Homo sapiens: one gene and its partner. The protein of the gene in region 2 purifies or fractionates together with the protein of the main gene of each other region. This does not show direct contact. Each region holds a gene or a part of one and is shown on either strand. Other genes may lie near its edges.

Region 1 (3,655 bases), on a different chromosome or scaffold from region 2:
TATCCCTTCTGATACAAACAATAGCTCAGAAGCAAGAATAAGTGGGAGAAAGCTGAGATCTCTGTCCATCACCTCTCACTTTAACTCCCCCAAACTCTTTAATTATGAGTGTGCTTTGCTCCAGGTGTTTGTGACAGTGAAATTGCTAAATGAGGACCATTTTAACCAAAGATTGGGTGATCAATAACACTCTATAGCAGTAGCTTGTTGGATCAATAGCATTCATTATTTCATGGTTAAGGTAAGTAGCCTCCTTTGCAAGTGGAGGTCATTAATCAGGGTTTCCTGGAGCTGTGTAAAAGAATATGTATGGTAGGTGGGGGTGTTCTGTTTTCTATTCTGTAAGTAGGGATGCTGACCAAGAATATATTTACCATTGTTGCAGTTGGTAGTATTGCATGTGAGATTCTCGAATAGCTAGCATAGTGTGCTTATGTGGGTATATTCACAGTTCTGCTAGTATCCTTAGGGACAACTAAAACACACAGCTTGGGAGGTCGATATGATACTATTGTACTTGAAGGTCTATCTCTTGAAAGAAACATCCATCTCGTAAAAGAGTCTACCTCTTAAAAGAAATATTGGGATTGTTCTGTGTGGCTCCACAGGACAGAACTCAGGGATAGAGAGTACAGAGTGTTAAATGTTGCTGCGGTTAAAAAATAAGATTCTAAAAATTAGGACTCTGTAAAAATGAAGTGAATTGTTTCACCATGTAATGCGTAATAACTTCTAGATCAGGTGGGGGGATTCAAACATGGGCTTGATGACCGCTTACTTAGTTGCTGTGGAGTTGAGAAGGTTGAACTGAAGGCTTCTGAGATCCCTTGTAACACTGAGATGCTGCGATTCTTTTCAGTCACAGTCTACTTCCCACCATTGTAATGTCTTAACTGGTAAGTAGCCTCAACTGCCCACTTGAATTCTTGTGGTTCCCACTGGCAGTCATCTTCAAAGATTCATTCTTTCTCTCAACTTTTAGAATGATATTCCCTTTTCTCTTATTTCGCAGAATTTGTTCAAAGGCCTCTTGGTATTTGCCAGCAAGGGTGCATAGATTACCCTTGGTCCCCTTCTCTACTCCCGTGGACATAGGTAACTGCCATTCTCAGATCTACAGCTGGCCAAGAGAATATGCAGAGCCCCTAGCCCAGTGCTCCCAGTGCTACTGGGAGGCTTTTATCTCATACAGCTATGCTGGACTGAGATAGGATCATCTAACCCTCACTGCTTGATTCTGACCCCATTCCAGGAGTGTGCCGTAAATGAAGGTGTAGAAAACACTGCAGTCTCCAGAATGTACTGTCTCCAGAATGCACTTCTCTGCCCATGTCAACTGGAATCTTTGTTCTTGAAGACTATACTTTCTAGGACTCAATACCCTATAACTGCTTCCTACCCTCAAACACAAATACACACAGAAAACACTAAGCTTCCCTATCCAAGTGTATTCTGGGAGTTAGAGCCACCAAATAGAAACTGAAAGATACTCAGGCCGGGCGTGGTGGCTCACGCCTGTAATCCCGGCACTTTGGGAGGCCGAGGCAGGTGGATCACAAGGTTAGGAGATCGAGACCATCCTGGCTAACATGGTGAAACCCCGACTCTACTAAAAATACAAAAAAATTAGCCTTGGCGTGGTGGTGGACGCCTGTAGTCCCAGCTACTCAGGAGGCTGAGGCGGGAGAATGGTGTGAACCCGGGAGGCGGAGCTTGCAGTGAGCCGAGATCACACCACTGCACTTGAGTGCACTCGAGCCTGGGCGACAGAGCGAGACTCTGTCTCAAAAAAAAAGAAAAAAGAAACTGAATGATGCTCAATGGGAAGAGAAGGATAGAACCACACCCTGCCTCAACCTGTAGCTGCCTGATTTTCTGACTGAAACTGGCCTTGCATTTCTGAACTGCAAGGTGACTGTAGAGAAAGGATGCAGGGGCTTGCTATCTACCTTCAGGGCAGGCTCAGCACTTCTAACGTGGGCCTCCATTTCATTGTCAAGTGTGGTTCTATCAGCCTTGTAGTTTGAGGAAATCTTGGCAATAGGCCATCTGTATTCTCTATTGCTACAGAAAAAAATCGCCCTAAAACTTAGTAGCTCTAAACAAAGAGACCAAGTCTGTGAGTATGTAAATATTCCCAGGGAAGAAACCAAAGTGCTGGAGAAGAAGATACAACTGAAGAGAAAAAAGTGTTCTTGAGTTGAAAAATTAAGTCTTAAGATTAAAAGCGAAAATTAATGAGAAGAGACTTCTACTGAGACGGAGATTTTAAAAAAATATTTTATTTTAGTTTTTCTTTTTTTCACATATGCTCAAGACTAAGGAAAGAAAAATCTTAAAAGGGGTTGAAGACTGGGTGCAGTGGCTCAGACATTCTTAGATATGCAGGCCCCAGAATCCATGTTCTTTAAAAATTTACTGTGAGAAGACGTTCCATCTACCTGAAGATGAATCACTGTTAGCTCTAAGAAAAGGGAAGTCTTGAAAGGATGGGTGGACTTCTCTGAGGCACAGCCCCCAGCTCAATAGCAGAGTCCTGAGGAAAATTCTGTCTCTGCAAAGTATACCTGATTGTACTAGTCACAGTATCGAACCTGTCAACCTGCGGAGGTTGCTGCCTTTCATGGCACTGTCTGAATGAAACTGAAAAAGAAATTCTTTTATTATATATTCTCATTACTTATAGGAATAATTTCAGAACTGATGTGAGATATTTCTCTGAATAACCTCTCCCTCAGTCTTGTTTACTACTAGATTCAGAAGTCTGATTACAAAGGGTTACCAGTGTGCCACCTCTACCCTGGAAAAAAACTGGAAAACGATAGAACAAAAATACCTTTGGGCAGTAGATCTAAGAGTGACTTTTTTCCACGTTTTTCTAAATTCTGAAACAACTTTTATTTTTGTTAAGTGCATTATTATTTACTAAGAAAAGTTTTTTAGAATGACGATGTAAGCCATAAACTTTAAGATATCTATTAATTAGATGCAAAAAACACCTCTTATTAAGCTACTTGGTTAATAAGCTCTTAAATGGGGAGAAACAAACCCAGATGGTAATTTATTAATACCAACTTTTGATTGTAGGTGATAAAGTAATTCTGTACCTCCTTATTATAATTGGAACAGGTATAAGTTACTCTTTCAGTTCTCACTTTACAGTCTTCTGTGGTTAGGAGTATGAAAGAATTAGCAAGCTCTCAGATCAGAGGGTGTGCTGTGCTTTTTTCCCACCCCCTGCTCCCCCTGGCAATTTTGGGAATTCAGAGGGGTTTATTTTGTTGAAACTAGAAGCTACTGTTTAGGAAGAAGGGAATTAATTTCAACAAAGAGTTTATAAAGATTCTGTATTATCTGTTGCTGCAGAAAAAATTGCCCTAAAACTTACTAGCTCTAGGACGGGTGCGGTGGCTCATGCCTGTAATCCTAGCACTTTGGGAGGCCTAGGCGGGTGGATCACCTAAGATCAGGAGTTTGAGACCAGCCTGACCAATGTGGTGAAACCTTGTTTCTACTAAAAATATGAAAATTAGCCAGGCGTGGTAGCACAGGCCTGTAATCCTAGCTACTTGGGAGGCTGAGACAGGAGAATTGCCTGAACCTGGGAGGCAGAGGTTGCAGTGAGCCGAGATCGCGTCACTGCACTCCAGCCTGG
Region 2 (2,855 bases):
TTCCTAGGACTGGTTCACTGTGTACCTCTTAACACCACTCAGCTCTGGAAGAGAGTCCTTACAAACGGGCCCTCCTTGGCTGAGTGTGGTGGCTCACACCTCTATGTAGACCCAGCACTTTAGGGGGACTAGGAAAGAGGATCACTTGAGTCAGGAGTTTGAGACCAGCCTGGGCCACGTGGCAAGACCATTTCTACAAAAAAAAAACTTAAGAAAACTTGTCAGGTGTGGTGGCATGCACCTGTAATCCCAGCTACTCAGGAGGCTGAAGCAGGAGGATCACTTGAGGCCAGGAGGCCGAGGCTGTAGTGAGCTATGGTTGCGCCACTGCACTCCAGCCTCCATGACAGAGCAAGACTGTTTAAAAACAAAAATGAAAACTGGCCCACCTTGTCCCAGGGACCTCCCCTGCTTCGTCTGGTTAGAACCTGGCACGAATGCGCTTTTGTCTCATCCTGAGTCACAGGCCTCAGTTCACGGCCCTTTCCATACTGAAAACTCTCCATACGTTTCTTTTAAAACCTTTTATTCAATAATATATACTTTTAAAATAATAATATGTAACTGCCGCCATGCCACATACTGCGCCCGTCCCCCCACTGTGGAGTCTGTGGTCAGCTAGTTAGCGTGGTTTGCTGGAAAAACAGGCGGCCACGGGACGAGTCGAGGGGCTCGGGGAGCAACAGTAACCAACAACATTCTGCATACCCTTCACATTCCCCATGCTTTCTGGGTCGGGAAGAAGTCAACAGGAAGCCAAAGGCAAGTGAGCCTTTTACATTCGGAAGTGAGGTTTGATATACGGTGGTGGGCTGCCCTTCGCTTGGTCTAGTTCGTGCTCGCCAAACCTGCCACCGTTTTGTGTCTGCTCACGGAACGTGATCTCTCTATACGCGTTAAGACGTTTGATTTGGTTCTTGTTCTGCTTATGGAAAAGTGGGAGAACCGCAACAGACCTGGGGAAAGAGACGGGAGGAGGGAAAGACGTCATTAATCAACCTGAGCGGGCGAGGGGAGGCCTCCACGTGTAGGAGGGCCTGTGCTAGAATGCAAGCTCGGCCCTCCCATGCCACTTGGTGGAGAACCCTGTGAGAACTCGCTGAGTTCAGGTTTCCAACAGTACCCTCTGCCTTCCTCTTCTGATTATCATGACAGAGATGGTCTCTAGCACGGCCTTCTGTCACAGGACGGGTGCTCTGGGCACCACGTGTGTTGTGACCAGGTCTTCCACTCTACCCCATCCCTCGGGTCCAGGGTGCTGATGGAGAAGCCTCAGAGCCTCTTGACCATTCTGTGCCAGTCAAGCTACAAATTCAGCAGTCAGCTCTAGGTCCCCCTCAGACCTGACCTGATTATCTGAGGTGTCTTAGGACTAAGACGGGGTCTGTATTTACTCAGAAAAAGGGCTGAGTCCACTAATAAACAAAGAGCAGTAAGTGAGCTCAAATATTTTTAACTCTCCCCTGGAAACAGCTAGCTGCCTGGCATGGCCTGAAAACCTCATTTCTCCTTCCAGGTCCAGCATAGCAAGTGGGTGGTGAGATGCCGGCAGTGGAATTCTAGAAGCAGTGCCTCCCAGAACAGCACTACAGTACTGAGGAAGGACTATGCACCTGGGAAGCTGTCACACACACAAAATCATTTCATGAAAACTTTCTTTGGGTAAAGGAAGGGTTCCACTGCGTAGTATTTGATTTGAGAAGGGCTGCATGGTGCATGAGGTTAAGAAAGAAATGACTATATTTGCCTTTAAACACTTCAGCTGATTCCAAGCACCCAACTTCAGAGGCTCAGTGAGAAGAAAGCACACTAATTAAAGAAAGCACATTAATTAAAGATACCACCACCTGCCAAATAATAGCATGTGCTGCAAGGAATGGGGCTAGGGAGAGTGTTTCACAAATGCAGAGCACCAGGCCACAAGGTTAAAGTCATGCACTAAAACAGTCAATCCCAAGAGGCAGGTGTCTGAGTGGCGCGACTCAGAAGCAAGTACATAAAAACGGAACACTCCCAACAGGACACCACTCTAGCCCCACTTCTGCCAAAGGAAAGTTTTCACATCAAGGTGTAACACACATCTTTGCAATTCAAGGTTTATCCCTCCCCTCTCCCCCAAAGAGACAGGAAATACAAGTTAAGGTCCTCATAGCAATGGTTTGTCTCCCACTTGGGAAGGCTGGTTATTGTCAACATTTTTATTTAAGAAAACAGGATTTAACATGGCATTTTTCTTCCCTCTAAGGGCAGCAGCACATAAATCATACATCAGTCATCCAGTGATACAAAGAGGTGGCCAATTGTGTCTGAAGTAGTCACTTGTAAAGGATCACAACCCAGGCAGTGTTGCTTTTCTGCAAACAGAAGGAAACAGAAGGCTCCATGGTCCTTGAAGATTATCCAAGTTTTCCACTAGTTGTCAAGATTTCTGTCCCAACCTCTTAGTCACCATTTACAGCAAGAAGAGCCAGCAAGTGAAAAACTGTTAATTTATTGATTCAAAGTTGTTTTTTTTCTTTTTAAAAAACAATCCCCAATACATGCAGTTCAGGGTTAAGTATCACATTTGTAGCACATTGTTGAGTCTCAAAACAAAAATATGCATCACCTGTATAATCCCATCACATCTTTTTCCAGCCTCTACAATACCTAGTTGGGGGTGTTTTCATTTATACATCCACATAGCTCAGAAGCATGTTATTAACGGTTGATCTGGCCCGATGCTTCTCCGCCACCTCCCCTGCCCTGGTCTCCACCTCGGGGTTATTTTTTTCTAAAGGCAGGATGTTACTCAGTCTTAATTTATTAAGATCACTGACAAACTTTGGCTTCTTGTGTGCTCATGTGGTCCCTGC

Evidence for each region.
Region 1: the proteins of CSNK2A2 (region 2) and GPATCH2L purify together in Homo sapiens (affinity purification with mass spectrometry; 7 studies listed by BioGRID and IntAct, with this or other methods). This does not show direct contact.

Annotation. Positions count from the first base shown.
Region 1 is NC_000014.9:76,158,358-76,162,012, forward strand, and holds part of GPATCH2L (G patch domain-containing protein 2-like), read left to right. Parts: intron 1-3,655.
Region 2 is NC_000016.10:58,157,398-58,160,252, forward strand, and holds the end of CSNK2A2 (casein kinase II subunit alpha'), read right to left. Parts: exon of another isoform or gene 957-2,855; 3' UTR 510-956; downstream 1-509.